4 linked regions of the Homo sapiens genome follow. The protein of the gene in region 3 binds, or shares a complex with, the protein of the main gene of each other region. Each region holds a gene or a part of one and is shown on either strand. Other genes may lie near its edges. A codon is read from its position in the direction of its gene.

What was found.
Region 1: the proteins of TFDP1 (region 3) and RBL1 are in contact, whole or in part, in a crystal structure (PDB 5TUV), measured with the Homo sapiens proteins. Residues at the interface, in NP_009042.1 of Homo sapiens: Pro260, Phe261, Ile262, Thr290, Phe291, Glu292, Ile293, His294, Asp295, Ile297, Glu298; in NP_002886.2 of Homo sapiens: Tyr1004, Phe1006, Asn1007, Ser1011, Leu1014 (codon at 3,089), Ile1017 (codon at 3,098), Asn1018 (codon at 3,101), Ile1021 (codon at 3,110).
Region 2: the proteins of TFDP1 (region 3) and E2F1 are in contact, whole or in part, in a crystal structure (PDB 2AZE), measured with the Homo sapiens proteins. Residues at the interface, in NP_009042.1 of Homo sapiens: Glu201, Cys202, Leu205, Glu206, Glu208, Arg209, Arg212, Leu213, Arg215, Ile216, Lys219, Gln220, Gln222, Leu223, Leu226, Ile227, Gln229, Gln230, Phe233, Lys234, Leu236, Val237, Arg239, Asn240, Arg241, Glu244, Pro251, Ser255, Val256, Ile257; in NP_005216.1 of Homo sapiens: Arg202, Leu203, Leu206, Thr207, Asp209, Leu210, Leu213, Gln214, Ser216, Glu217, Leu220, Asp221, Leu223, Met224, Ile226, Cys227, Thr228, Gln230, Leu231, Leu234, Asp239, Ser240, Gln241, Arg242, Leu243, Ala244, Tyr245, Val246, Thr247, Cys248.
Region 4: the proteins of TFDP1 (region 3) and RB1 are in contact, whole or in part, in a crystal structure (PDB 2AZE), measured with the Homo sapiens proteins. Residues at the interface, in NP_009042.1 of Homo sapiens: Gln222, Glu225, Leu226, Gln229, Ile262, Val271, Asp273, Asp288, Asn289, Thr290, Phe291, Glu292, Ile293, His294, Asp295, Glu298, Arg302; in NP_000312.2 of Homo sapiens: Ile835, Ser838, Phe839, Thr841, Ser842, Phe845, Gln846, Ile848, Asn849, Val852, Cys853, Asn854, Ser855, Val858, Leu859, Lys860, Arg861.

What each region holds. Positions count from the first base shown.
Region 1 is NC_000020.11:36,995,843-37,002,014, reverse strand, and holds the end of RBL1 (retinoblastoma-like protein 1), read left to right. Parts: intron 1-3,085; coding exon 3,086-3,256; 3' UTR 3,257-5,666; downstream 5,667-6,172. UniProt on the Homo sapiens protein: Key regulator of entry into cell division. Directly involved in heterochromatin formation by maintaining overall chromatin structure and, in particular, that of constitutive heterochromatin by stabilizing histone methylation.
Region 2 is NC_000020.11:33,683,383-33,690,521, reverse strand, and holds the start of E2F1 (transcription factor E2F1), read left to right. Parts: upstream 1-4,136; 5' UTR 4,137-4,257; coding exon 4,258-4,518; intron 4,519-7,139. UniProt on the Homo sapiens protein: Transcription activator that binds DNA cooperatively with DP proteins through the E2 recognition site, 5'-TTTC[CG]CGC-3' found in the promoter region of a number of genes whose products are involved in cell cycle regulation or in DNA replication.
Region 3 is NC_000013.11:113,622,741-113,629,763, forward strand, and holds part of TFDP1 (transcription factor Dp-1), read left to right. Parts: intron 1-439; coding exon 440-546; intron 547-552; exon of another isoform or gene 553-2,021; coding exon of another isoform or gene 2,022-2,267; intron 2,268-2,763; coding exon of another isoform or gene 2,764-3,489; exon of another isoform or gene 3,490-7,023. Other genes in the region: uncharacterized protein LOC124903219, read left to right, coding at 2,022-2,267, 2,764-3,489. UniProt on the Homo sapiens protein: Can stimulate E2F-dependent transcription.
Region 4 is NC_000013.11:48,299,502-48,306,754, reverse strand, and holds the start of RB1 (retinoblastoma-associated protein), read right to left. Parts: upstream 3,005-7,253; 5' UTR 2,843-3,004; coding exon 2,706-2,842; intron 1-2,705. UniProt on the Homo sapiens protein: Tumor suppressor that is a key regulator of the G1/S transition of the cell cycle. The hypophosphorylated form binds transcription regulators of the E2F family, preventing transcription of E2F-responsive genes.

The sequences.
Region 1 (6,172 bases), on a different chromosome or scaffold from region 3:
CTGGGTACTACACATCGAGAGCTACTGTTATACAGTAAATTCAGTTGTTTTGGTTTGGATTGGTTTGGTTTGTTTTTTTTTTTTTTTTTTTTTTTTATTGTTCTGCAACCTGCTATTTTAATTCAACTCTACCTCATGGACATCTTTTCACAGATTTAGACTCTTAGTTCACAGGGTAGGAAAGCACAAAGGCCATAGGACTCTTGCATAATGGGAAGCTTATTTTTCTTTTTTTTTTTTTTTCCATTTTTTTTCTTTTTTATTGATCATTCTTGGGTGTTTCTCGCAGAGGGGGATTTGGCAGGGTCACAGGACAATAGTGGAGGGAAGGTCAGCAGATAAGTGAACAAAGGTCTCTGGTTTTCCTAGGCAGAGGACCCTGCAGCCTTCCGCAGTGTTTGTGTCCCTGGGTACTTGAGATTAGGGAGTGGTGATGACTCTTAACGAGCATGCTGCCTTCAAGCATCTGTTTAACAAAGCACATCTTGCACCACCCTTAATCCATTCAACCCTGAGTGGACATAGCACATGTTTCAGAGAGCACAGGGTTGGGGGTAAGGTCACAGATCAACAGGATCCCAAGGCAGAAGAATTTTTCTTAGTACAGAACAAAATGAAAAGTCTCCCATGTCTACCTCTTTCTACACAGACATGGCAACCATCCGATTTCTCAATCTTTTCCCCACCTTTCCCCCCTTTCTATTCCACAAAACCGCCATTGTCATCATGGCCGGTTCTCAATGAGCTGTTGAGTACACCTCCCAGACGGGGTGGTGGCCGGGCAGAGGGGCTCCTCACTTCCCAGTAGGGGCGGCCGGGCAGGGGCGGCCGGGCAGAGGCGCCCCTCACCTCCCGGACGGGGCGGCTGGCCGGGCGGGGGGCTGACCCCCCCGCCTCCCTCCGGGACAGGGCGACTGGCCAGGCGGGGGGCTGACCTCCCCGCCTCCCTCCCGGATGGGGCGGCTGGCCGGGTGGGGGGCTGACCCCCCCCACCTCCCTCCCGGATGGGGCGGCTGGCCAGGCAGAGGGGCTCCTCTCTTCCCAGTAGGGGCGGCCGGGCAGAGGCGCCCCTCACCTCCCGGATGGGGCGGCTGGCCGGGCGGGGGGCTGACCCCCCCACCTCCCTCCTGGACGGGGCGGCTGGCCGGGCAGAGGGGCTCCTCACGTCCCAGTAGGGGCGGCCAGGCAGAGGCGCCCCTCACCTCCCGGACGGGGCGGCTGGCCGGGCGGGGGGCTGACCCCCCCGCCTCCCTCCTGGACGGGGCGGCTGGCCGGGCGGGGGGCTGACCTCCCCGCCTCCCTCCCGGACGGGGCGGCTGGCCGGGCAGAGGGGCTCCTCTCTTCCCAGTAGGGGCGGCCGGGCAGAGGCGCCCCTCACCTCCCGGATGTGGCGGCTGGCCGGGCCCGGGGCTGACCCCCCCACATCCTTCCTGGACGGGGCGGCTGGCCGGGCAGAGGGGCTCCTCACTTCCCAGTAGGGGCGGCCGGGCAGAGGCGCCCCTCACCTCCCGGACGGGGCGGCTGGCCGGGCGGGGGGGCTGACCCCCCCCACCTCCCTCCCGGACGGGCAGCTGGCTGGGCAGAGGGATGACCCCCCCACCTCCCTCCTGGATGGGGCGGCTGGCCGGGCGGGGGGCTAACCCCCCCACCTCCCTTCTGGACGGGGCGGCTGGCCGGGTGGGGGGCTGACCCCCACCTCCCTCCCAGACGGGGTGGCTGCCAGGCGAAGACGCTCCTCACTTCCCAGACGGAGTGGCTGCCGGGCGGAGGGGCTCCTCACTTCTCAGAGGGTGTGGCTGCTGGGCGGAGGGGCTCCTCACTTCTCAGACGGGGCGGTTGCCAGGCAGAGGGTCTCCTCACTTCTCAGACGGGGCGGCCGGGCAGAGACGCTCCTCACATCCCAGACGGGGCAGCAGGGCAGAGGCGCTCCCCACATTGCAGAAGATGGGCGGCCTGGCAGAGACGCTCCTCACTTCCTAGATGGGATGGCGGCCGGGCAGAGACACTCCTCACTTTCCAGACTGGGCAGCCAGGCAGAGAGGCTCCTCACATCCCAGACGATGGGCGGCCAGGCAGAGACGCTCCTCACTTCCCAGACGGGGTGGCGGCCGGGCAGAGTCTGCAATCTCGGCACTTTGCGGGGCCAAGGCAGGCAGCTGGGAAGTGGAGGTTGTAGCGAGCCGAGATCACGCCACTGCACTCCAGCCTGGGCACCATTGAGCACTGAGTAAACGCGACTCCGTCTGCCATCCCGGCACCTCGGGAGGCCGAGGCTGGCGGATCACTCGCGGTTAGGAGCTGGAGACCGGCCCGGCCAACACAGCGAAACCCCATCTCCACCAAAAAAATACGAAAACCAGTCAGGCGTGGCGGCGCGTGCCTGCAATCGCAGGCACTCGGCAGGCTGAGGCAGGAGAATCAGGCAGGGAGGTTGCAGTGAGCCGAGATGGCAGCAGTACAGTCCAGCTTTGGCTCGGCATCAGGGGGAGACCGTGGAAAGAGAGGGAGAGGGAGACCGTGGGGAGAGGGAGAGGGAGAGGAGGGAGAGGGAGAGGAGGGAGGGAGAGGAGGGAGAGGGAGAGGAGGGAGACGGGAAGCTTATTTTTCTATTCTTGGTTTGGTTTTTGAGACAAGGTCTCACTCTGTTTCCCAGGCATGATCACTGCTCACTGCAGCTTCAACCTCCCCAGGCTCAGGTGATGCTCCTTAACCTCCCGAGTAGCTGAGACTACAGGCACAAGCCACCACACCTGGCTAATTTTTGTATTTTTTGTAGAGACCAGGTTTGCCATGTTGCCCAGGCTGGTCTGAAACTCCTGGGCTCAAGTGATTGAACCATCTTGGCCTCCCAAAGTGCTGGTATTACAGGCCACCACACCTGGCCTTAAATCTAATTTTTAAACCACCTGAAAAGATTAGTTCAAGCCATCCCTTATTAGGTTGTTCTAAGTTTTAAAAAGAGTCCTTATCCCAGTGTTAAGATTTGGATAGAGGATAGAGCACAGGAAAAAACAATTAGCTTGGTTGTTTGCTGCCATTTCCCCTCTCCCTCTTTTACTCACACACGTTCTCTATTTCTGCACAGAGTTTGAAAGATATCAACAACATGATAAGGCAAGGTGAGCAGAGAACCAAGAAGCGAGTAATAGCCATCGATAGTGATGCAGAATCCCCTGCCAAACGCGTCTGTCAAGAAAATGATGACGTTTTACTGAAACGACTACAGGATGTTGTCAGTGAAAGAGCAAATCATTAATGTTGTTCTTGTTTCTATGATAAAAGCACTTTCAGATTGTTCTGCAGAAAGTTGGAGCTCTGTCCTTCAAACCTTTTAGCCCTATAGATGATAAATATCACTGGGTTATAAGAAAAAATTGCACAAAAATTATGTGCTTTTTAAAATATTTATCCAAAATGTAGTTGACAGAGATGTATTTTGAGTTGGATTGGAAAGGAATATTTTAAGTGCCTTTTAAAAATACTAATAGTCCGGCCAGGCGCTGTGGCTCACGCCTGTAATCCCAGGACTTTGGGAGGCCAAGGCGGGCAGATCACCGGAGGTCAGGAGTTCGAGACCAGCCTGACCAACATGGAGAAACCCCATCTCTACTAAAAATACAAAATTAGCCGGGTGTGGTGGCGCATGCCTGTAATCCCAGCTACTTGGGAGGCTGAGGCAGAATTGCTTGAACCCAGGAAGCGGAGGTTGTGGTGAGCCAAGGTTGCGCCACTGCACTCCAGCCTGGGCAACAAGAGTAAAACTCCATCTCAAAAAATATATATATATATATAAATAGGGAATTTTTTTTAATGTTTGCTCCTTGAGTTTTCAAGATGAAATAAGGAGAAACCCCATAACTTTTTAGCTCTCTTTTAAAAATAAATGTCTCCTTCTGTGTTCTGTAATATGAGGATAAATAATCTACTTTTGATAGCATGCTTTGAGATATTTGTATTCTTAATTTAATATTGAAGGAAGGGGTTGGTTCCCATAGTACCTGGCCAGAGGGTTATATACCATCCTGTCTCTGGCCCACTGTGGTAATTCCACATCCAGGTACCACCGCCATTCAGAGTTGTCTCACCCCTTCTCGTGCCTTTTCTCTCCTTGAGCTTTATAAACAGATTTGTACCTGAGCCCCAGTGCTACACTCATCCTTGCTTTCCAGCCCTAAGCCATCTCAGCCTGATGTCACAACCCAATAAATGGGGCACTTTCTTCTTTTGTAAACTATTATCATTTTGGTTTCTGTGACATTAACTTAATTATATATGATCGTATTAACTCATGTAGTTCTCAAAATAGGCAGCTGCTTCTGAAGCCAGTAAAATAAAATTCAGTTAGTTATTAAAAACTAAATTCCTATTAGTAAGGTAACACCATGATTATGTGTGATATACTGTTTTTGAGATCATAGTTATCAGTCATTCTCAATATCTAATTGAGTCCCTAAGAATATTTTAAACCTTTTAAAAATCACATAAATATCATCTCATGCCTCATAATTCTAATATATTTAATACATCAGTAAAATAGCTGCTTATTACTTCCCACACTTTGTTCTCAGTATTGTTAGTGCATCATGAGTTTCCTGCTAGTGTTTGACCACTGGGTACTCCTGAAGATGTTTTTTAGTACTAGGGATGCTTTTCAGTATTAGGGATGCTTTTTTCAGTACTAGGGATGTACTAGGGAGTACTGAGTACTCCTGAAGATGTTTTTCAGTACTAGGGATGCTTTTTTCAGTGTTAGGGATGCTTTTCAGTACTAGGGATGCTTTTTTCAGTGCTAGGGATGCTTTTCAGTACTAGGGATGCTTTCCAAAATATCACCTCTTTAACGTTTACTTTTTCTAGTGTGTGTCTGGAATCCAAAGGACATGAATAAGCCACTCATAATTAATTTTGAGAAGTTTTATCAAATGTTTATGTTTCTAACTGCAAACCTTAATTTTGGAAAGGCACAATGTTTAACTCACCTATGTTTAACCATGGCTAATTTAAAATAGTCTAAGATTTGGCCGTCACTAATTAGTATTCTCAAGAATTTCATTTTTCAATTTTAAGAAGAAAAGGGATTTTGGTCACATTTTGCTTGTAAATGAAAATTACATCCTCATTCTTTGTGTAGTATCTACACATTGTTATAAGCCAAAAAACAAAGTCTGTCTGGAATCTTTGTACATATTTGTATGTTGCTATAATTGTTATTTTTATCTTCATTATTGTGCAAAATATAAATGAGCATTTGTACATTGACTGTATAAGAAACCATGGGCCAGGTCCTGTGGCTCATGCCTATAATCCCAACACTTTGGGAGGCTGAGGCAGGAGGATTGCTTCAGTCCAGGAGTTCAAGACTAACCTGGGCAACATAGCCCTCATCTCTACAAAAAATAAAAAAATTAGTTGGGTGTGATGGCATGTGCCTGTAGTCCCAGCTACTCAGGAGACTGACATGAGAGGATCACTTGAGACTGGGAGATTCTGAGGCTGCAGTGAGCTGTGATTGCACCACTACACTCCATCCTAGGTGAGAGGGCAAGACCCTTTCTCAGAAAAGGAAAAAAAGAAATTCTGGACATGTTTTTATCAGTTTTCAGGACTTGGTATCAATGTACATAGAATGGCTAATAAAAATTGGAATTGAGATTATTGAAAAAAAACTCTTTTCTGTATGACTGGAAGCAGTTGCACAGCCATCTGAAATCTGTCTGTTTTAATATCTATGTCTCTAAAATTCCTTAGAATAACTTAAAAGTTAATGTTCCTGTGGTTTCCAGGGTCTAGGGGGAAAATGAAAAATAACTGCTTAATGGATACAGAGTTTTTTGGGGGGGGAGTGATGAAACTATTTTGGAACTTGATAGAGGTGGTGTAGTTGCATAACATTGTGAATTTACTAAATGCCACTGTATTGGACATTTAAAAATGGTTAATTTTGTGTTATGTAGATTTCACCTTAAATTTTTTTTTAAGTCTTGATTTCACCTTAAATTTTTTTTTAAGTCTTAGATACTATATTAGTCCATTTTCATACTGCTGATAAAGAAATATCCAACCGAGACTGGGAAGAAAAAGAGGTTTAATGGACTTACAGTTCCACGTGGCTGGGAGGCCTCACAACCATGGCAAAAGGCAAGGAGGAGCAAGTCATATCTTACATGGATGG
Region 2 (7,139 bases), on a different chromosome or scaffold from region 3:
CAATAGTGAAACTCCGTCTCAAAAAAAAAAAAGAAAAGAGAAAGAAAAGCCAGACATGTTAATTTTTATATGGTATTTTCCAATTTCCTCAAATCTTAAAACAAATTCATAATTCAAGAAAAATCTTCTATGGGCAAATTGAGTTATATCTGGGGGCCAGTTTGCAAACTCTGCTTGTTTTGTTTTCTTAAACTTTGACACGCATCGTGTAAAGAAGCTGTTATCTGTTGTTCTGCAGATGAGGCAAGCAAAGCTCTTCAAGAGGGTGAATCACTTCCCCAAGATCACAGAGGCGGGAAGCCACAGGGTTGGGGGCCACCCGACTCCAAAGGCTTGTTTCTATGTTAGACTGCCTTTTGGATGGGCAAGAGGTCTGTTCAGATATAGCCAGAACTGGCACAGTGACAGAATATCTCCAGGGACAGTAAACTGTCAGTCAGGGTAGCATTGAGGGATTGTTGCAGATGCAAAACTCCCCACCTCCCTCTGCCACAACTCAACAATGGACATCTCTGTGCCCTTCATAAAATTAAGTCATCACAGAATCTTTTCTCCCAATTATGCATTCCTTATCATGACTGGATATTCATGTTTGGTGAATTTTTGTTTTTTTGTAAGCTAAGAATGTATGCTTAGGGGAGGTGCTGTTTGTGGAATAAATAGGTTTAAATTATTTGTGTCACTTGTCAAACTTCTTAACAAGCATACTGTGCAGTGACAGAGAAATAATTCCTAACTTTCCCACTGGACTGTGAGTTCCAGGGGTCTGTTTTACTTATAACTGTGTCCCCAGCACCTAGCACAATGTCTGACACATAATAGGTGCTCAGTAAATATCTGTGGATTGAATGAAGTGAATTGACTTGTCCAAGGTCATGTTGACCAAGATTTCTGATTACACCCACCTGATTTAGAAGCCCATGCTATCACCTCTACACCACTCTGCTTCTTGGAAAGAACCAAGGGAAAGAGGTCTCCAGGCACAGGATTGTGGGCCCAACAGATTGCATCCCCTCGAACTCCTCTAGTTTGGTTGGTGAAGGTGGTGATGGAAATAAGCACCTATGAACCAAGCCACTATCCACCATAATACCCTTTAGAAACTACACTTTATAATCTTGACAGCCCTGAGCCTGGCTTTTGGGGTATTTACAGAGGGTGGCAAGGGCAGGTCCTGGGTTTTGCAGTGGGACAAGTGAAGTTCTCATCTCAGTTCTGCTGTGTGACCTTGAGCTATGAATGCCCCTCTCTGAGCCTCTTCCTTCCTGCACCATGTGGATAAACAAGCTTACTTACGGGATTATGGGGTTGAAAGGAGATCATCAATGGAAGTGGCTGCCCAGTGACTGTGGATTTTTTGGAAACTGTTTTTTGAAAACTGTTGACATTGAGAACAGCCTTATCAGGAGCTGCCAGGCTTAGGGCCAAGGGGCCTCATCTATCAGGCTTTTCTGCTTTCAAGTAGGTATTAATAGGTACAGAAGGCCCTTATCTCTTCCTCAGTTTCATGCTAGGAATGCTGGTCTTCACTCCTTTCTGCTTCAGCAGGACCTGAAGGATTGTGGGACGGAGGGCGCCTACTTCTACCTGGATGTGTACTTGAATACTCTGGGGCGGGCAGGACTTTGGAAAACCCCCAACCTCAGCCTCACCAAGCCTGAAAAATAACCTTTTCATCTACTTGGTAAACTCAGGCCCTTTTGGCCTCAAATTTCCTCATCATAAAATGGAGCAATAATAATAGACATCTCTCTTTGCCAGCCACCACAGTTAAACCAGCACAGTGCTTGGTATATAATAGGTGCTTAATAAGTGTTTGTTGAATGACTTGGGTTTGAGAGGGCTTCACACAAATGAATGTTAGTGTTACTGGGACCCTGTGGGAAGGTGCAGGGAAAGGACACTCTTTCCATCTGGAATGGGAATGTGCTGGTTTCTCTTGCTCTCTGCCAGCACCTGCGTTGGTTGTTTAGAATGGGACCTACCCCTCAGCTTCTTTATGGAGAGGGGATGGGGAAGGGGGACAGGCAGACCTCAGGGCTGGGAATGCAGTGTAGGCCCAATTTGGTCACTGGTTGGCTTCACAGTTACTTTCTCCTGAAAGGGCCTCAGTTTTCCTATCCATACAGCAAGAGGCTTATGTGGTCTCTGTGGTCCCTTCTAGCTATGATACATTCTAGGATTTGCAATGAGTAATTTCAGAAACTACTCATTGGAGGGGAAAACAACTCCTGATTTCCTAAACCACCTCATAGTTTGTAAAACACTTTCCAATTCCTTATGCTTTTCATTCTCCTGGCAACCCTGGAAGGGGCCAGGGCAAGGTCTGTGTGCCCATTTGAAACTAAGGGTGAGAAGCATCCTCAGGAGCTGTGATTTGAGGCTGCACCACTCATTTTGATTATGCTGGTACACCAGTTTGCTTTCAAATGTGAGTATGCATAAAAATAACCTGGAAGCTTGGTGAGGTGGCAGTCACCTGGAGTACCAGCTATGCTGGAGGCTGAGGCGGGAGGATCTCTTGAGCCCAGGGGTTTGAGACTACCCTGGGCAACATAGTGAGACCTCGTCTATATAAAATAAATAGGAAAAAAAAAATAAGATACTGGCTTTTCTAATTCCCTAAGTGTCAAAAAAAAAAAAAGAAAAAGAATAACAAATATCACCTGGAAAGGGGACATGGCATTGTTAAAATGCAGATTCTTGGGCACCTAGAGATTTTAAATTGGCAGGGCCAGGGTGGGCCCAAAATTAGCAAGTGACCACGTGGTTCTGAAGCCAGTGGCCTAAGGACCACCCTTGCAGAACCGTGGTCTCCTTGTCACAGTCTAGGCAGCCTCTGGCTTAGCCTCTGTTTCTTTCATAACCTTTCTCAGCGCCTGCTCTGGGCCAGACCAGTGTTGGGAGGAGTCGCTACTGAGCTCCTAGATTGGCAGGGGAGGCAGATGGAGAAAAGGAGTGTGTGTGGTCAGCATTGGAGCAGAGGCAGCAGTGGGCAATAGAGGAAGTGAGTAAATCCTTGGGAGGGCTCCCTAGAAGTGATGTGTTTTCTTTTTTTGTTTTAGAGACAGGATCTCGCTCTGTCGCCCAGGCTGGTGTGCAGTGGCATGATCATAGCTCACTGCAGCCTCGACTTCTCGGGCTCAAGCAATCCTCCCACCTCAGCCTCCCAAGTAGCTGGGACTACGGGCACACGCCACCATGCCTGGCTAATTTTTGTATTTTTTGTAGAGATGGGTCTTCACCATGTTGATCAGGCTGGTCTCGAACTCCTGGGCTCATGCGATCCACCCCGCCAGCTGATTACAGGGATTCCGGTGGTGAGCCACCGCGCCCAGACGCCACTTCATCGTATTGTAAACGTCTGTTACCTTTCTGTTCCCCTGTCTACTGGACTGTGAGCTCCTTAGGGCCACGAATTGAGGATGGGGCACAGAGCAAGCTCTCCAAACGTTTGTTGAATGAGTGAGGGAATGAATGAGTTCAAGCAGATGCTATACGTTGGCTGTTGGAGATTTTGGCTAAAATGGGACTTGCAGGAAAGCCCGACGTCCCCCTCGCCATTTCCAGGCACCGCTCTTCAGCTTGGGCTCTGGGTGAGCGGGATAGGGCTGGGTGCAGGATTAGGATAATGTCATGGGTGAGGCAAGTTGAGGATGGAAGAGGTGGCTGATGGCTGGGCTGTGGAACTGATGATCCTGAAAAGAAGAGGGGACAGTCTCTGGAAATCTAAGCTGAGGCTGTTGGGGGCTACAGGTTGAGGGTCACGTGCAGAAGAGAGGCTCTGTTCTGAACCTGCACTATAGAAAGGTCAGTGGGATGCGGGAGCGTCGGGGCGGGGCGGGGCCTATGTTCCGGTGTCCCCACGCCTCCAGCAGGGGACGCCCGGGCTGGGGGCGGGGAGTCACACCGCGCCTGGTACCATCCGGACAAAGCCTGCGCGCGCCCCGCCCCGCCATTGGCCGTACCGCCCCGCGCCGCCGCCCCATCCCGCCCCTCGCCGCCGGGTCCGGCGCGTTAAAGCCAATAGGAACCGCCGCCGTTGTTCCCGTCACGGCCGGGGCAGCCAATTGTGGCGGCGCTCGGCGGCTCGTGGCTCTTTCGCGGCAAAAAGGATTTGGCGCGTAAAAGTGGCCGGGACTTTGCAGGCAGCGGCGGCCGGGGGCGGAGCGGGATCGAGCCCTCGCCGAGGCCTGCCGCCATGGGCCCGCGCCGCCGCCGCCGCCTGTCACCCGGGCCGCGCGGGCCGTGAGCGTCATGGCCTTGGCCGGGGCCCCTGCGGGCGGCCCATGCGCGCCGGCGCTGGAGGCCCTGCTCGGGGCCGGCGCGCTGCGGCTGCTCGACTCCTCGCAGATCGTCATCATCTCCGCCGCGCAGGACGCCAGCGCCCCGCCGGCTCCCACCGGCCCCGCGGCGCCCGCCGCCGGCCCCTGCGACCCTGACCTGCTGCTCTTCGCCACACCGCAGGCGCCCCGGCCCACACCCAGTGCGCCGCGGCCCGCGCTCGGCCGCCCGCCGGTACGGACCCCAGGGACGCCGCGCCGACAGCGCCGCCTGTGCCCCCCGCGCAGACCCGGGAGGGCGCCGTGTTTGGCCTGGAGGCGGCAGGGGGCGGGGGAGGGGTTGACTGAGGCGCCCAGGCTGGGCGGTGCAGAGCCGGGGTTGGGCCTCCGGGCCCCGCCCTGGGGTGCGGGGTGACCTCGGGCCGGTCCCTGTTTGCTGCTCTGTGCTCTGCGCCTCAGCTTCCTCACCGGAGCCTCCCCAGCGTCGGACTCAGTGATAATAATAGCCCACGTGTATTCAACTGGCGTTTACTGCATGCCAGGCCTTTGGGCGACTTCAAGCCAGCTAAAACTCACAACCCCGCTGTGAGCTGTGTTGTCACTGTGCCCATCTGACGGAGGAGGAACTGAGGCCCAGAGAGGGAAAGTGACTTGCCCCTGGTCACACGGCTGCAGGTGGTGGGGCTGGGATTTGAACTGAGGCCTGCTGGCTTCAGCTCAGAATTTGCATCTCGGTAGTGAGCACAGCTGCTAGGGGAAGTGAAGGCGGGGCGGAGGAAAGTCCTGGGGCCTAACCGTTGGTGAGCCATTGAGGAGACCCTCCTTCCTGCCTCGATGCTGACTGCCAGGTGCAGGCCTGGCCGGCCAGGCCTCTGGGGACAGCCCTCCTGGCTGGGAGGCCTTCTCTGCAGGGGCGGGGCAGCTGGACCAGCTGCTGATCCCCTCCCTCTGCCTGTCCTTCCATCTGCCACCCTCCACCCTCCCAGGCCCTGGTTGCCATGGAACCTCATTAATCAGGCAGGCCGACCCCTGAGTCTCTGTAGAAGGACTAGGTGGGCTGGGCCTCTGGGAGCTGGAGAGGAGGCCCCCAGTGCCAGGAGAGAAAATGTCTCAGGGAGATCCTTTAATAAAGCCCTCCCTGATCGCTGAGCTCAAGACGAATTCAGACTGGAGGGCCCAGAAGAGGCGGCTGAATTCCAGTGGGAGAAGGGATTGGAGGCGTAGAAGCCTGGAGCTGGGAACTGTGGGGCACAGGGCAGGGTGTGGAGACCAGTTTGACTGGCGCAGCCTATGGGTGAAGGTGGGGCTCTGGTGTGCAGGCGGGGTCTGGCCAGGCAGGATGGGGTCTCAGCAGGGAACTTGGAGCAAGTGGGAGGGGTGAGGCAGGACTCAGGACAAGGAGGTAGAAGCTGCCTAACTGCTGATGGGGGTGTGGGTGGCAGCTGGTCCCTGAGGCATCCTGAGGAGGCTCCCCCAACCCCCTTGGCCCCATGCCCAGTGCTGCCTTCCGGAATCACCACAATGCTAATAATAATAACAATAGCAGCCACCATTGTTTTGAGGATGTCTTGTGTGCCAGGCTCTGTGCCAAGCGCTTTACTTAATTAACTCATTTAACCCCATCAGCAGCAGTCCCTTTTTACAGATTGGGAAGCTGAGGCCTAGAGATGTTAGAATCTTCCCATGTCATTCTGCTCTTGAGTGGGGAGAGCAGTCTGCGTTTCCTCTGAGGTTGACCTCTGGGATGCCTTGCTTTCTGGGGATGCTGATACAGGTTGAAGAAAGGGCAAGAAGGGCTTTTAGGGGCCCTCCCTCTTAATGAGTGGGTGGGAGGGGGTTGTACCAGGGGTGGGCCAGGTGGCCTGTCTCCTGTACTCCAGGGGCCTGTTCCTGTGGGTACCACTTGGGACCTGGGCAAGCATCTTCCATTCAGCTGTGTGACAAGCATTATAGAAGGCTCAGGTCTGCGGAAATCTAACAACCTGAGGGTCTTGTCCTCAAAGATCTGAACAGGATTATGGGTTCTAGGATCAAAGGGAGGGACAGGGGCAAAGAAAAATGCCCTCCACTCCACCTGTCAGGGGCAGGCTCATTGGCCTGGGCATTCCATTCATTCAACAGTTGTTGAGTTAGTGAATGCCCAGGAGGCACTAGGCCCAGAGACAAGGAGCCCTGGCCCCCAGTGTACTTAAGGGCCAGGAGGCTGGCACCATTCTGGAACTGAAGTCCAGAAAGTCCACAGGTTTGGCTTTTGGCCTCTCTGCACTGGCATTTGTCTGGCACAGTCCTTGAAATAAGCTACAGGCTTAGCTTCTATACCAGCAGGCATTCTGTATACAAGGCTCTGCAATTCAGCCATTCCTCTTGGCCCTGCCTGTCCACTTCCACAAACTCAAGTATTATAACTATAATACATGTTTAATGTAGAAAACTTAACTTTTTTATTTATTTATTTATTTTTTTTTTGGAGACAGGGTCTCATTCTGTTACCCAGGCTGGAGTGCAGTGGCGTGATTGCGGCTCACTGCAACCTCTGCCTCCCAAGTTCAAGCTATTCTGTGCCTCAGCCTCCCGAGTAGCTGGGATTACAGGCGTGTACCACCATGCCCAGCCAATTTTTGTATTTTTAGTAGAGAGAGGGTCTTGCCATGTTGCCCAGGCTGGTCTTGAACTCCTGAGTTCAGACAATCTGACTGTCTCAGCCTCTCAAAGTGCTGGGATTACAGGTGTGAGTCACCATGCCCAGCTGAAAACTTAACTCTTAACTCTTTTTTTTTTTTTTTTTTTTGAGATGAAGTCTCGCTCTGTCACCTAGGTTGGAGTACAGTGGCGCCATCTCGGCTCACCGCAACCTCT
Region 3 (7,023 bases):
CAAATGTGGTTCTCCTTCCTAAGGAAAAGTGGATTATCAGATTTCCAAACTAGTTTTGCAGCCTTATAGAGAAATGTTGCGATAAAAATTCTAGTTTTAAAATTCTGTTCCATAATTGTCATAGAATCACAGACTTTTCCAGGCCGTGGTCCCCACCAGCACGTTCCATAGCAGACATCGCCGAGGGGCTGGAGCAGTGGATGATCTGCCTGGGTCACCTGGGTGGCGTCAGCGCGGCCCTGCGGCCCTCCCCTTACGGGTTTACATTGGGAATCAAGCTTCATGGAGGTGTTGCTCTTGAGCCCTGGATTTGAGACAGTACACGTGGGGAAAGCTAAGCATCTCTAATTGCAAGCACCGTCTTGCATTTAGAATGGTCGCTTGTAGCCTTAACTTAGAAAAGGAGTCTCGCCCTTGACCTGGTGTCCTTGTGTTGCAGGCGTGGTGTCCCTCGTGGCCGTTCACCCCTCCACCGTCAACCCGCTCGGGAAGCAGCTCTTGCCAAAAACCTTTGGACAGTCCAATGTCAACATTGCCCAGCAAGTGGTAAGCCTCCCGCAGGAGCGGACAGCCGGGATCTCGGTGTGAGGTCGGGATCGGATGAGCCGTGTGGTTGGGGATGTTCCCAGGTGTGCCTGGATTTGGGCTCCAGTTGCAGCATGGGGCCTTTCCCTCATCAGGGAGCCCGTGGCCAGTGCTAGATTTTCCATAGCCCTCTGCAGCTGCCCACGTGTTGTTGTGGGAGAGGTGATGGCGCCCACAGCACTCCTGTGTGCCCCAGCCCATGCCATCCTTCCAGTAACTGGAGGGTGGTGGGTGGGGCCGCGGCCCCAACCAGAGGCAGCTTCCTTTTAGTGTCAGAGCTCGAAGCTCTTCATCTAACAGGGGCTTCTTACGTGATGTGGCCGAGCGTTGGCTGTGGCCCTCCTGGAGACATCAGGCTGGGAAGCCAGAGAGGGATAGGGCCCTGGCCGTGGCTGTGCGTTTGCCCCGGGGCAGTGACAGGGCAGATGCTGCTCCCTTGGCCACGCACAGGAGAGGGGAAGGTGGGCATTGGGAAGTGGCGCATCCCCCCTCCCCAGGCTGATGCTGGCCAACTGATGCTGCTTCTCATAATGCTGTTTCCTGTCTCGTGTCCGCCCTCTGCGTCCTTGCCGGTGGCAGCCTACTGGAGACAGGGAGCCCACACAGAATCCTGACCTCACCAGAAATGGGGCCCCAGGCACTTGGTGGGCAGGTTTGGCTGTGACTGGAGCTGGTGGTGAGGGACATAGCCATCCCAAGGCTAGGCCGGGCTTCCAGTCCTTCCTCAGGGACTTGTTTATGGTGCCTGAGGGCTCCTTCCTGGTCCTGAGATGATGCTGTGGCCCCGCCTGGGCAGCTGCCCCAGCCCTGTTCCTGCCAACCCTGGGCTTTGGTGATGCAGCACCTCTTGCACCCCGGCCTCCTGGCCCACTCCACCCCCTCACCCTGCTCCGTCTGTGCTGTGGCCCAGTCCTCTTAAAAGGATTGAACACCTCCGGGTGGGATGAGAACCTGTCCGTTCACTGTCACCAGGTGTCTCTCAGGCATACCCAGGTGTCCTCACGTGTCTCTCGGGTGTCCTCAGGTGTCTCCCAGGCATCCTCACGTGTCCCCAGGTGTCCCCAAGTATCTCTCAGGCATCCCCAGGTGTCCTCACGTGTCTCTCAGGTGTCCTCAGGTATCTCTCACATGTCCCCACGTGTCTCTCAGGGTGTCTCTCAGGTGTCCTCAGGTGTCTCTCAGGGTGTCTCTCACGTGTCCTCAGGTGTCTCTCAGGGTATCTCTCACGTGTCCTCAGGTGTCTCTCAGGGTATCTCTCACATGTCCTCAGGTGTGTCTCAGGGTATCTCTCACATGTCTTCAGGTGTCTCTCAGGGTGTCTCTCACATGTCCTCAGGTGTCTCTCAGGGTATCTCTCACATGTCCTCAGGTGTCTCTCAGGGTATCTCTCACATGTCCTCACGTGTCTCTCAGGTGTCTCTCAGGATATCTCTCACATGTCCTCAGGTGTCTCTCAGGGTATCTCTCACATGTCCTCAGGTGTTTCTCAGGTGTCTCTCACGTGTCCTCAGGTGTTTCTCAGGTGTCTCTCACGTGTCCTCAGGTGTTTCTCAGGTGTCTCTCACGTGTCCTCCGGTGTCTCTCACTTGTCCTCAGGTGTTTCTCAGGTGTCTCTCACATGTCCCCAGGTGTCTCTCAGGGTATCTCTCACATGTCCTCAGGTGTCTCTCACGTGTCCTCAGGTGTCTCTCACGTGTCCTCAGGTGTTTCTCAGGTGTCTCTCACGTGTCCTCAGGTGTCTCTCACGTGTCCTCAGGTGTCTCTCACGTGTCCTCAGGTGTCTCTCACGTGTCCTCAGGTGTCTCTCAGGTGTCTCTCACGTGTCCTCAGGTGTCTCTCAGGTGTCTCTCACGTGTCCTCAGGTGTCTCTCACTTGTCCTCAGCTGTTTCTCAGGTGTCTCTCACATGTCCCCAGGTGTCTCTCAGGGTATCTCTCACATGTCCTCAGGTGTCTCTCACGTGTCCTCAGGTGTCTCTCACGTGTCCTCACGTGTTTCTCAGGCGTCTCTCACGTGTCCTCAGGCGTCTCTCACGTGTCCTCAGGCGTCTCTCACGTGTCCTCAGGCGTCTCACGTGTCCTCAGGTGTCTCTCACGTGTCCTCAGGTGTCTCTCACATGTCCTCAGGTGTCTCTCACGTGTCCTCAGGTGTTTCTCAGGTGTCTCTCACGTGTTCTCAGGTGTCTCTCACGTGTCCTCAGGTGTTTCTCAGGTGTCTCTCACGTGTCCTCAGGTGTCTCTCACGTGTCCTCAGGTGTTTCTCAGGTGTCTCTCACGTGTCTTCAGGCGTCTCTCACGTGTCCTCAGGCGTCTCTCACGTGTCCTCAGGCGTCTCTCACGTGTCCTCAGGCGTCTCTCACGTGTCCTCAGGTGTCTCTCAGGCGTCTCTCACATGTCTTCAGGCGTCTCTCACGTGTCCTCAGGCGTCTCTCACGTGTCCTCAGGCGTCTCTCACGTGTCCTCAGGCGTCTCTCACGTGTCCTCAGGTGTCTCACGCGTCCTCAGGTGTCTCACGCGTCCTCAGGTGTCTCTCACGCGTCCTCAGGTGTCTCTCACGCGTCCTCAGGTGTCTCTCACATGTCCTCAGGTGTCTCTCACGTGTCCTCAGGTGTTTCTCAGGCGTCTCTCACGTGTCCTCAGGCGTCTCTCACGTGTCCTCAGGTGTCTCTCACGTGTCCTCAGGTGTCTCTCACGTGTCCTCAGGTGTCTCTCACGCGTCCTCAGGTGTCTCTCACATGTCCTCAGGTGTCTCTCACGTGTCCTCAGGTGTTTCTCAGGTGTCTCTCACGTGTCCTCAGGTGTCTCTCACGTGTCCTCAGGTGTCTCTCAGGTGTCCCCAGGTGTCTCTCATGGATCCCCAGGCATCCTCAGGTGTCCCTGGCCCTGTGGAGAGCTCTCTGTACTGAGCTGTTTTTTGTTGTCTAGGGCATCTCCCTTTGGTCTAATCATGTTTTCTTCAGAGAACATGACCACATACCAGGGATATTTTGGTCATTTTTGCACTTTAGTCTTTATTTTATATGCATTCCTGCTATTTCCGTTTATTTAAATATGCTTGAAATTCTCTGGATTCTTTAACAGATGTTAGGATATGAGTTTTAAGAGAGAGTGGCTTGTGGGTCACAGCCTTGAGGATCTGAGCAGGATTGCCTTCCCCGCGCTCCCTTCCCCGCGTCCCACTTCCCTGCGCCCCGCTTCCCCGCAGCCCCCCTCCCCGTGTGTGCTCCCACACAGCTGTCCTGATTGAGCGGTTCCAGATCCCAGGCAGCTTTTGTGGCCCCGTTTCCTGCCTGTGGAAGGTGACAAAAAACTTGCTCTGCAGAAGTTTTGTGGCCATTGAAAGTAGCGGTTTGTGGAAGCCCTACCACGTCATACGGCTTTTCAACCACGTTGCACAGCAGATCACGGCTTTTCAGTAAATGCCATTTTGATAAAAGCTAAAAATTCAGTTTTTGTTTTGCTTGATAATTAGATTATAGGTTTGCTTATAAGTTGACTAGGAATTCTAAGTTTGATTTTATAGGTGCTGTGTGTCATAGCAGAGTTTGTCTGGGTGAATAATTGTAGCACCACTTTCGTCTTTACTGCCGGTGTGAATACACTGGGGGGAAACGAATGAGAAGATTATCTTATTGATGTGCTTTAAACTTCGTCACTGAAAGTCAAGTTCCTGATTTAAATTCAGCTGTTCGGGTGGAGTTTGTCATTGCTGTTTTGTGCTTTGCAAAATCCCAGTGATGGGAATTAAAGCTGACAAAGGGCAAATGTTTCTTAAACCTTTTTATATACCAGAGGTTTACAAAAAACTGGACTGGCTCATTCTGACACGAGGGGTGGGGCTCAGTCCGGGCATGTGAGTGAAAGCGGTGGGGAGGTCCTTAGGTCTCTGACCTGCACCAGTCAGCAGGCGCAGGGCTTGTCAAGGTCAGGGTCTTTTGAGGTGCGGATGCTTGTGAAGCCTGTGGTGCTGCAGAGCTCAGCACGCGCACAGGAACGTGTGCGGGACAGAGGACATATGTGCTCAGCCGGCAGGAGCAGCGGCCTGTGTGAGCCCCTGGGGAGAAGCAGCCCCCCACCCAGGCCTGTGTCCCAGAAGTCGGCATCTGTGGTCGCAGTGGCCTTTCCTTTGCAGCTGCGCCACTGGCCCTGTCTCTCTGGACACCGCGGTTAACCTTGGTCCATCTCTAGGATTCTGTGTCTGAGTGGGGTCACACTACACGGAGACATCGTAATCTCAGTTTTTAGAGTGTGTGAAATTAAGGTGCAAAAAGTGTGCACTTAGGGCAGAAGGGATGCCTTAAATCAGGAGTCCCCAACCCCTGGGCCTGTTAGGAAGCTGGCCGCACAGCCGCCTGAGCCCTGCCTCCTGTCAGATCCCAGCATTAGGTTCTCAGGAGCGCAAACCCCACTGTGAACGGCACATGCAGGATCTAGGTGGCACTCCGTATGAGAATCGAATGCCTGATGATCTGAGGTGGGACAGTTTCTTCCCGAAACTACCCCCGACTCCGGTCTGTGGAAAAACTGTCTTCCACAAAACTGGTCCCTGATACCAAAAAGGTGGGGGATCGCTGCTTTAAACACCAAGGCTCACTGTGCAGCCAGTGAGGAGGGGAGCTCCTGGGGGAGGAGGGTTGGTCTCGGGCAAGGTGGACCTCCGGCAGGTCCTCTACTGTGGGATGCTTCCACCTGGAGCTGTTTTCTAACGACTGCTGGCGTGGAAGCTGCAAAAGCTTTAGAGTCGAAAGACTGTGTCTGAAGCCGTGTAAAGACTGTCTGGAGCCGTGTAAAGACTGTGTCTGAAGCTGTGTAAAGACTATGTCTGGAGCCGTGTAAAGACTGTGTCTGAAGCCGTGTAAAGACTGTGTCTGAAGCCGTGTAAAGACTGTCTGGAGCCGTGTAAAGACTGTCTGGAGCCGTGTAGAGACTGTGTCTGAAGCCGTGTAAAGACTGTGTCTGGAGCCGTGTAAAGACTGTGTCTGGAGCCATGTAGACTGTGTCTGAAGCCATGTCATTTACTTTCTCTGAAGCGCAGCTTGGATTCCAGCCGTGAGCACAGTAGGAAGGGAGACCCCTTATGACCTGTGGGGCCTGGGTCACCTCCCCTGCTCCCCAGCGAGAGGCGGGTGAGGGAGTCGTGAGGGCGGAGCCCATCCTCCAGAGAAGCCGCTGTTAAATCTAAGGGGTGGGTGTCCCTGGCGCCTTTCAGCCCCTGCCTGCCTCCTGCTCCCAGAGGCTCCTGGATCTCCTGGAAAGCCCTGGTTGGAGTGGGACCCACAGCCTCCCAGCTTTGGGCAGTACCCCTCATTGTGCTGTGACCACTTCTCCCTTCCAGGGTCTCTGCCCACCACTCCAGCTAGCGTGGCCACTGCTTCCAATACCTCCTTTTTTTCCCTAGGGGCCCAGCTCTGAACTATCCTTCCCGGCACTGTCCCATCCACCCTTTGGCACCTCCTTGGTTCCTGTTTTCCCTGCGCTTCTGCCCACACACGCCCTCCAGGGCTTCAGTGTGTTGCCGTGCCTCCTCTGGCTGTTGAGTGTGGCTCCTGGTGTAGGGAAGTGAGGCCGGGGGCCTGCTCCATGTCTGTTGAATGGGAGACTGGAAGGCGTCCTGTGGCACAGGCGGCCGGCCCGAGTTCACCGGCTTCCTGTGCACCAGGAAGGAAACGCACACACCTGTGCCAGGTCCGGGAGCAAAGCCTCTGTCTCGTTCCTGGGAGGGCTGGCTCCAGGCCGCCCCTGTGATGCTGACTCAGCTCACAGGGCTGGTGAGCAGCAGGTGATGGGTGAGGAGCAGGGACAGTGCTGCGGAGACACAGTGAGGGGAGCTGCCACGCAGGGCACGCAGAGGAAGGTGCAGGCACCCTTGCCCAGCACTGCATGGGCCGGATGCCGCGGGGCCTTCCGCAGGGAGCAGTTAAAGCAGGAGAGTAAGGAGAGCTTCCTGTAAGACCTGGCCTCCGTAAACAACGCATTCCCAGTGCACTGGTGGCTCGTTCTCAGGGTGCCCCTGGGTGCTGAGTCCTGTCTTCCAGGAAAGGTTGTTGGTGAGCACCATTGAGCACCTGGTGTGTACCTGCCTCTGGCTTTCTCTTCTTCCCAACTTACAGTGGGTTTGACCTGTGATTTTGACTTTAAGATGGTCCAAAAGCAACATGCATTCAGTGGAAACTGCTTCCACTGCCCATACGACCGTCCTATTTTTCATTTTGAGTGTGGTATTCAGTGGGTCTCCTGGGATACCCACACTTGACTAGAGTGGGCTTTGTGTGAGATGCTTCTGCCCGACTGGGCTAACATGCGTGATCTGAGCACGTGTAAGGTAGGCTGGCTAAGCTGTGATGTGTGGTAGGAGAGGTGGATGACGTGCATTTCGACTTAGGGTATTTTCAGCTCATGCGGGTTTATCGGGATGTTCCTTGTAAGTTCCTCGTTGTAAG
Region 4 (7,253 bases), about 65 Mb from region 3:
TTCATTCATCTAATTTCTATGTGTTATCTACTAATAAGAATAGTATGAAGAATAATTAATAATTTTTGAGTATTTACTATGATCCTGTAGAAAGTACCTTAAACATATGGTTTCACTGAATCCCGACATCAGCCCTTTTAGATAAGTATTCTCATCTGTAAAAGTAGACATTTACAGATGTCTGTCAAATTGGAGAAGTTAAAGAACTTACCTGAGGTCTCAGCCGGTAAGAGGTAAACCACTATGTGAGCCCAACAGTCTAACTCTATAATCCATGCCCTTGACCACTATTCTAGACTGCCAATTCCTCCTTCAAAACATAATTAGTTTTTGTTTTTTTTTCTTGTTTTGAAATAGGGTTTCACTCTGTCATCCAGGCTGGGGTGCAGTGGTGAAATCATGGCTCACTGCAGTCTCAAACTCCTGGGCTCAAGGGATCCTCCCACCTCAGCCTCCTGAGTAGATGAGCCTACAGGTGTGCCACAGCCACTGGCTAATTTTTTAAAATTTGTTTTAGAGACAGGGTCTTGTTTTGTTGCCCAGGCTCCTCTCAAACTCCTGGCCTCAAGCAATCTTCCCATCTTGGCCTCCCAAAGTGCTGGCATTACAGGCGTGAGCCAACATGCCTGGTCAGCTTTTTTGTTTTTTTAAAGACTGGGGTCTTGCTTTGTTGCCCAGGCTGGCCTCCAACTCCCAAGCTCATGTGATCCTCCTGCCTCAGCCTCCTGAGTAGCATGGACTACAGGTACGCGCCATCACACCCAGCTCGAAACATGATTAACCTTTGATTATTTCAACAATGAATGTGGTATGCTGTTCCTAGTGACAGTTTCCCTTCCAGCTACATTACTTAGGCCAGAGATAAGGCAACAGAAATAAGATCTAAACTCTCAAATCAGGAATGGAATCTGTCACTGGAGGTGCAGTTGGACTGAGCCTTGATTCCATCTCCAGGCAAGATGCTCAGTATCAGACTGCACGGCAGCGGTTCTACCCTTGCTGGTTAATTTATAGAGTTCAACTGTCTATGTTAATGAAACCCTTTGTGGGTATGGATAATCAAGAACAGACTGTATCTTGTATGGTTTTGACTTATAAGAGAATTTTTTATAGTTCCATTACTTAAAATATATAAAATGAGTTAAAAAATGAAAGAAACAGTCCTCTTTTTTCCAAGCAGTGGCCACAACGTCAATATTCCTGGTTACCCTACATTAGAGTATGCTTCCAAAGCTGTGTGCATAACATGGAATTCTTTAGAGTAGCCATTACTGCATTTTCCCAAGGGAAATTTGCAAGAATTGGATACATCAGAATTTAATCAGAAACTAAAGCCATGTCTTTTCCCAGAACATGCCCCAGACGTGGTTTTTAATTTTTTGTTGTTGTTATTTTGGTTTTTTAACGAATATGGTTTTTAACTGACCTATAAGACAGTCCATTTAAATATATAAATTTTTAATAGCCTTCCAGGGGCCATTTCCTAAATCCCACTTCAATCTTTTCTGCCGTGAATTGTTAGTGTATACCGAGTGGAAAGAAATGGGTGAGGGTGAAAGGATTTGGTGATAGACAAGAATGGGAGAGAAAATAGTGAAAAACAGAAACAAGTCCCATTCCCTCTGCAATGAACTTGTCTCAAAGTAGAACCAGTGCTGACAATAATGACAATTACACTCTTTCAATCATAGCTATTTAACCATAAAGTAGAAAAATCAAGAAAAGTAAGATGTTGTAATACAATAAATACTTCCCTTCAAGATCTAGTGCATTCGTATGGACTTGCTTAAATTTAGATTCCACTTAATAAGGGAAAACGAAAATTTCCATTTGCGCACAGAACCACTAATTTTGTGCCAAAAACAAAGGCAAAAAGAGGGGACACCAAGATCCTTGCTGGTTCAAAGTCAAAAGGCAAAATGGAAGAAATAATGAGACAAGCCGAAGCCGACTAACACGCAAGAAGAGTTCATCAAACAGGAAAAAAAAAAGTTTAGAAACTTTCAAGCACTTCTGGTAAATGTCTCATGAAAGTTTTGCCCATGTTTCAGTTCCTCTAAAGAGTTACGCTCCATCAATCACTACAGATGGCTTTGAGTCCCCAAGGCCTCGATGCATTATTGTTCTAAGGAAACGCCGCAAAGCTCCTGAGCCGAGTATCCTGTGGGCAATGGACACTCAGGACCCTGCGCTTCTTGTCCAAGGCTTTCTGGTCGGCCTCTCCCACAAATGGACTTCAGATGCAGTGCACGCCCGGAAGAAAATACTTCCCAACTGTTGCATCGCGTGAACCAAAACAGAAAGTCAGACGACCACCGGAGTACTCCAATTCTCCGGTGAAAAACTCTCCCACAGACACCATTTTTGTATTTTTATTTTTCATTTTTTGCGTCTGATGGACGCTCGCAACGACCCTCTGCCTCCGAGCCTCACAAGAGGGAACTGCACCTGTCACTTCGCTCAGGACCCTAGCCCCACCCGCCCGACACCTGTCAAGTTGAAGCCGAGACCCCTCGCCCAAGAACCCAGAATCCTGTCACCATTCTGCAGACGCTCCGCCGTGGCGGGGGGCAGGGAGGGCGCCTCCTCCCGCCGGGACCCGGCCCCTGGCGAGGACGGATCCCCGCCGAGCCGCCTTGGCGCCCGCCCTACGCACACCCGGGGCGCCCTTCCCGCGTGAGGCGACGGCGGCTCTGCTCGCTCACCTGACGAGAGGCAGGTCCTCCGGGCCGCTGTCCTGCTCTGGGTCCTCCTCAGGAGGGGGCGGCGGCGGCGGTGCCGGGGGTTCCGCGGCGGCAGCGGCGGCGGTGGCGGCCGTTTTTCGGGGGGTTTTGGGCGGCATGACGCCTTTCCGCGGCGGGAGCCAGCGAGCTGTGGAGGAGCGCCGGGGAGGACGACGCGCGCGCACGTCGGGGCACGCCCCGTCCTCTCCCGACTCCCGTTACAAAAATAATTTCAACGTCCCCTGAGAAAAACCGGACGCGCCCTCCCCCGCCCGGCAACTGAGCGCCGCGTCCAACCGCGGGAAAACGTCACTTCCGCCCGCGGCGTCACGTCCGCGAGGCTCCCGGGCCCGCCGGCGTCTGTGGGGAACTGGGGCGCTGGTCGGTGCGCGGGCTGGGACGCTAAGTCATGAGGAATTAAACTGGGAAACCTGGCGTGGGTCCAGGCGCCTTCCAGGAGGCATCCGGCGCGGCCCGGACGTGCTTCTACCCAGAACCACCCCCTCCAGGCCGGGGTGCACTTAACGGGGCTATACAAAGAGTCTGGTGGGTGACTGTGGGCCTCATCCCTATCCCGGGGTCTGATAGGGAAGACTCTCGGGCCCCGCAGGGAATATCTGGCTAGTGCACCCTCGGCGGGAGCGCCACTCTCCCTCCTTGGGCGGCGCCCCCCACCTCTCATCCCGCCCAATCCGTTTTGCAAAGTCGGCCAAAACAAAAACAAACTTGGAGCGCTGATAGGTGCGGAACTTTACCAGTCACTTAGAAGATAGAAAATGTTAGACACTTGCTGGCCTTTTGGGATCACTGGTTAGGGAAAGGAAGGGAGGGAGCTGTGGGGAATGAACGGATAGTAGTGTAATAAAGGATTGTAGTGGTGTAAGAACGGGAAGCACCGTGGAAACGTCTGAGGAAGATTTTCAGGGGAGCAGTAGCTGCTGAATAGAAGTCTGTCAGGCAGGCCTGACATTTACTATGTACCAGGAACTGTGCTGGCCACCTTACATAATTGTCTTATTTAATCCCCAGAAACAGCCTTTTTTTTCTTTTTCTTTCTTTCTTTTCTTTTTTTTTTTTTTTTTTTACTTTAAGTTCCGGGATACAAGTGCAGAACGTGTAGGTTTGTTACATAGGCATACGTATGCCATGGAGGTTTGCTGCACCTATCAACCCGTCATCTAGGTTTTAAGCCTTGCATGCATTAGCTAAGAAACAACGCTTTCCAATGGGTAGTATTAGCTAGTCTACGTTGCAGATGAGGAAACAGGCTCAGAGGAGTTAATTTGTCCAATACCAGGGCCGATGGGTAGCAGAGAATTTGAACTCAATTCTATTTGATTCCACTTGTCCATTATATTATGTTTGATGAAGAAAACAGTGACAGAGAAGGAGCATGTGCAAAGGCACAAAGACATCAGAAAAGAGCTTGCTGGGACTACCACCATCAAACATTGGCTTAAAGCTGTTATCACTTCTGTGTCTCGGTATTTGTACCAATAGATTATCTAGTTTGAATACATTTTTTTTTCTCTTTGGCAGACACTGTTATTGCCCATCTGAACTCGTCAACTGAGAAGGAAAGAGATGGTTTATGCTGTGAATAAAATACAGTTGTGCTGTGATGTAAATCCCCTCATCCTGGAGCAGCTGAGCAAGGTCTAAGGCAGGAAGAACCTTCAAGCAGGTCATGGCTGTAAGCCTCCTGAGTTTATCCCAGCAAGTTGTATAAGGGATTATCTTTTTATCTGCATATTATGACATATGTGAGGATGTGTAAAGGTTTGGCAAGCACTGGCCTACTCAACAGCCAGTCCTACCTAACTTCAGAAATCTTTCTTGTGGGCAAATGTCAGGAGATAGGGCCCAGGCCCAGGTCCAGCTACAAAGAATGAATACAATTAAAGTGCTACTTCCATTCACCTCACCCCAGATTAGTTTAGGCAAGAGCTCAGGATGCAGTTTTGACATTTGAAAGATAAGGAGTAGTCTGCTGGGAGCCTGATAAATTGAAACAGGGATGGCACAGTTCTAAATATTATTAAATAATAGTAATAATATTAAGTATTACTGAGGATGTGACACTTCTGATTGCTGCAGCCATTGTAACGTGAGGCAAGCCAACCTACAGAGAAGGTAGAAATGCTGATATTGGTGCAGGAGGAATTTCAAAAGAATCTGGATCCTCAGTGTTATAAATGAGCCTCTGATTTGGCCAGCCCTGGAGCTGACCTAAGCTGAGCTGAGGTTTTCACTTGTTTGCAACAGAAAGCATCATGACTGATAATGTTTCTCCTGTGCTTATCTTCAGGATAGAGACCAAATCTTGGGTATCATCATTGCCTTAGTACCTAGCACAGTGTTACACACACAGTAAATGCTTGCTTACTAAAAGTAGGGATGGCAGGAAAGTGAAGGAAAGTTCTAGGAACTGAAGTAAACTCTCTTCATACGTAGATATCACTTGCTTTATTTAAAACCAGTTTATCAACATCTAGATTACATTTATGTAATCTAGATTTATTTATTACCATATTACAATTATGATAAAGAGATTTCTCAATTTACAAAAGAATATATGTCTTGACCATGGATTAATTTAACTATGTTCACTAGTATGTAAAATATATTTTCCTGCAGCCATAAAAAGGAATGAGATCATGTCCTTTGCAGGAACATGGATGGAGCCAGAAGCCTTTATCCTCAGCAAACTAACGCAGGAACAGAAAACCAAACACTGCATGTTCTCACTTATAAGTGGGAGCTAAACAATGAGAACACATGGACATGAAGAGGGGAACAACACACACTGGGGGATTACTTGAGGGTGTAGGGTGAGAGGACAGAAGATCAAAAAACTACCTATCAGGTACTACACTTGTTACCTGGGTGGTGAAAAAATCTGTACACACCAAACCCCAGAGACACACAGTTTACCTATATAACAAACTTGCACATGTATCCCTAAACCTAAAATAATAGTTTGAAAAAAGTGTGGTGTATATATCATAATATATACACATAAATAGATACACACACACACACACACACACACACACACACACACATACACACATACATACCATAAAATAGACCCAGGAAGGGGAACAACACACACTGGGGCCTGTAGCGGGGAAGGGTGGGGAGAGGGAGAGCATCAGGAGAGCTAATGGATGCTGGGCTTAATACCATGGTGATGGGTTGATCTGTGCAGCACACCACCATAGCACACATTTACCTGTGTAACAAACCTGCACATCCTACACATATACCTGGGAGCTTAAAAGTTGAAGGAAAAAATAATAAAATATATTTTCATCCACACAACTCAGAAGCAATTGAGTTCACCATCAAAATCTTTAGTTTTCTGTTGCATTACCAAAGAAGTATTAGAATTTCGGCAGAGTCTAGACCAGGTACGGTGGCTCACGCCTGTAATCCCAGCAGTTTGGGAGGCCAAGGCGGGTGGATCACCTGAGGTCAGGAGTTTGAGACCAGGCTGGCAAACATGGTGAAACCACATCTCTACCAAAAATACGAAATTAGCTGAGTGTGGTGGCAGGTGCCTGTAATCCCAGCTACTCTGGAGGCTGAGGCAGGAGAATCACTTGAACCCAGGAGGCAGAGGTTGCAGTGAGCTGAGATCATGCCACTGCACTCCAGCCTAGGCGACAAGAGCAAGACCCCATCTCAAAAAATATATATATATATATATATATATATATATATATATATTTCAGCAGAGTCTTAAAAAAATTCCCCCTGAACTTCTTGAAATTCATGGATCTCTTCCAACCTGCTTGGTAATTTTAAGAAGATTGCTGTAAGACTCCTACAAAAAATATATGTATTTCTTAGATTTTCTATCTAGAGAGGGAACTCTCTTCAGTTTGAGACTCCTTCAGTGATATTAAAATTTGGGGAAGGGTCTAAAAAGTCTTCATCGTTCTAAAAAGCCTTCCTTCAAAGTTTTTATACCCCCAAGCTACCACACTATTTCCATTTCTTAACCATCTAGCTTCTTAGAAGGGTAGTCCCCATTGGTTCTCTCTGCTTCCCCAATTTCTCAGCCTGCTGGCCCCTGGCTTTCTTTCACTACCACCAAGAGCCCCCTTCTGAAATCACTCTTTCAAATGTCACTGATGATAGTTGTCAATCCCATGGCTTCTTTTGGTCCTCAACCTACTTGACCTTTCTTGCAGTCAATATAGTTAACCACTTCCTCTTAAAAATTCCCTAGTCTTCCACAAATCTATGGTCTCCTTGTTCTCCTCCCTTGTTACTTCACAAATTCCTTCATTAGTTCTCTTTCTGCCGGTCCCTTCAATGCAAGTGCTCCCTAGAGTAATGCTACTCAAAGTGTAGTTCTTGGACCAGTGACAGTCTGCGAACTGTTTGTGTTTAGTCCACAAGGAAATAAGTACAGAAATTAAAAGGATAAGTGCTTAGCAGTGTTTATATCAATTTGACATTTCAGGAATATCCGAGTGCATGATCATTGGACATTGCTTGTTAAACAGTTCAGGTATTCTT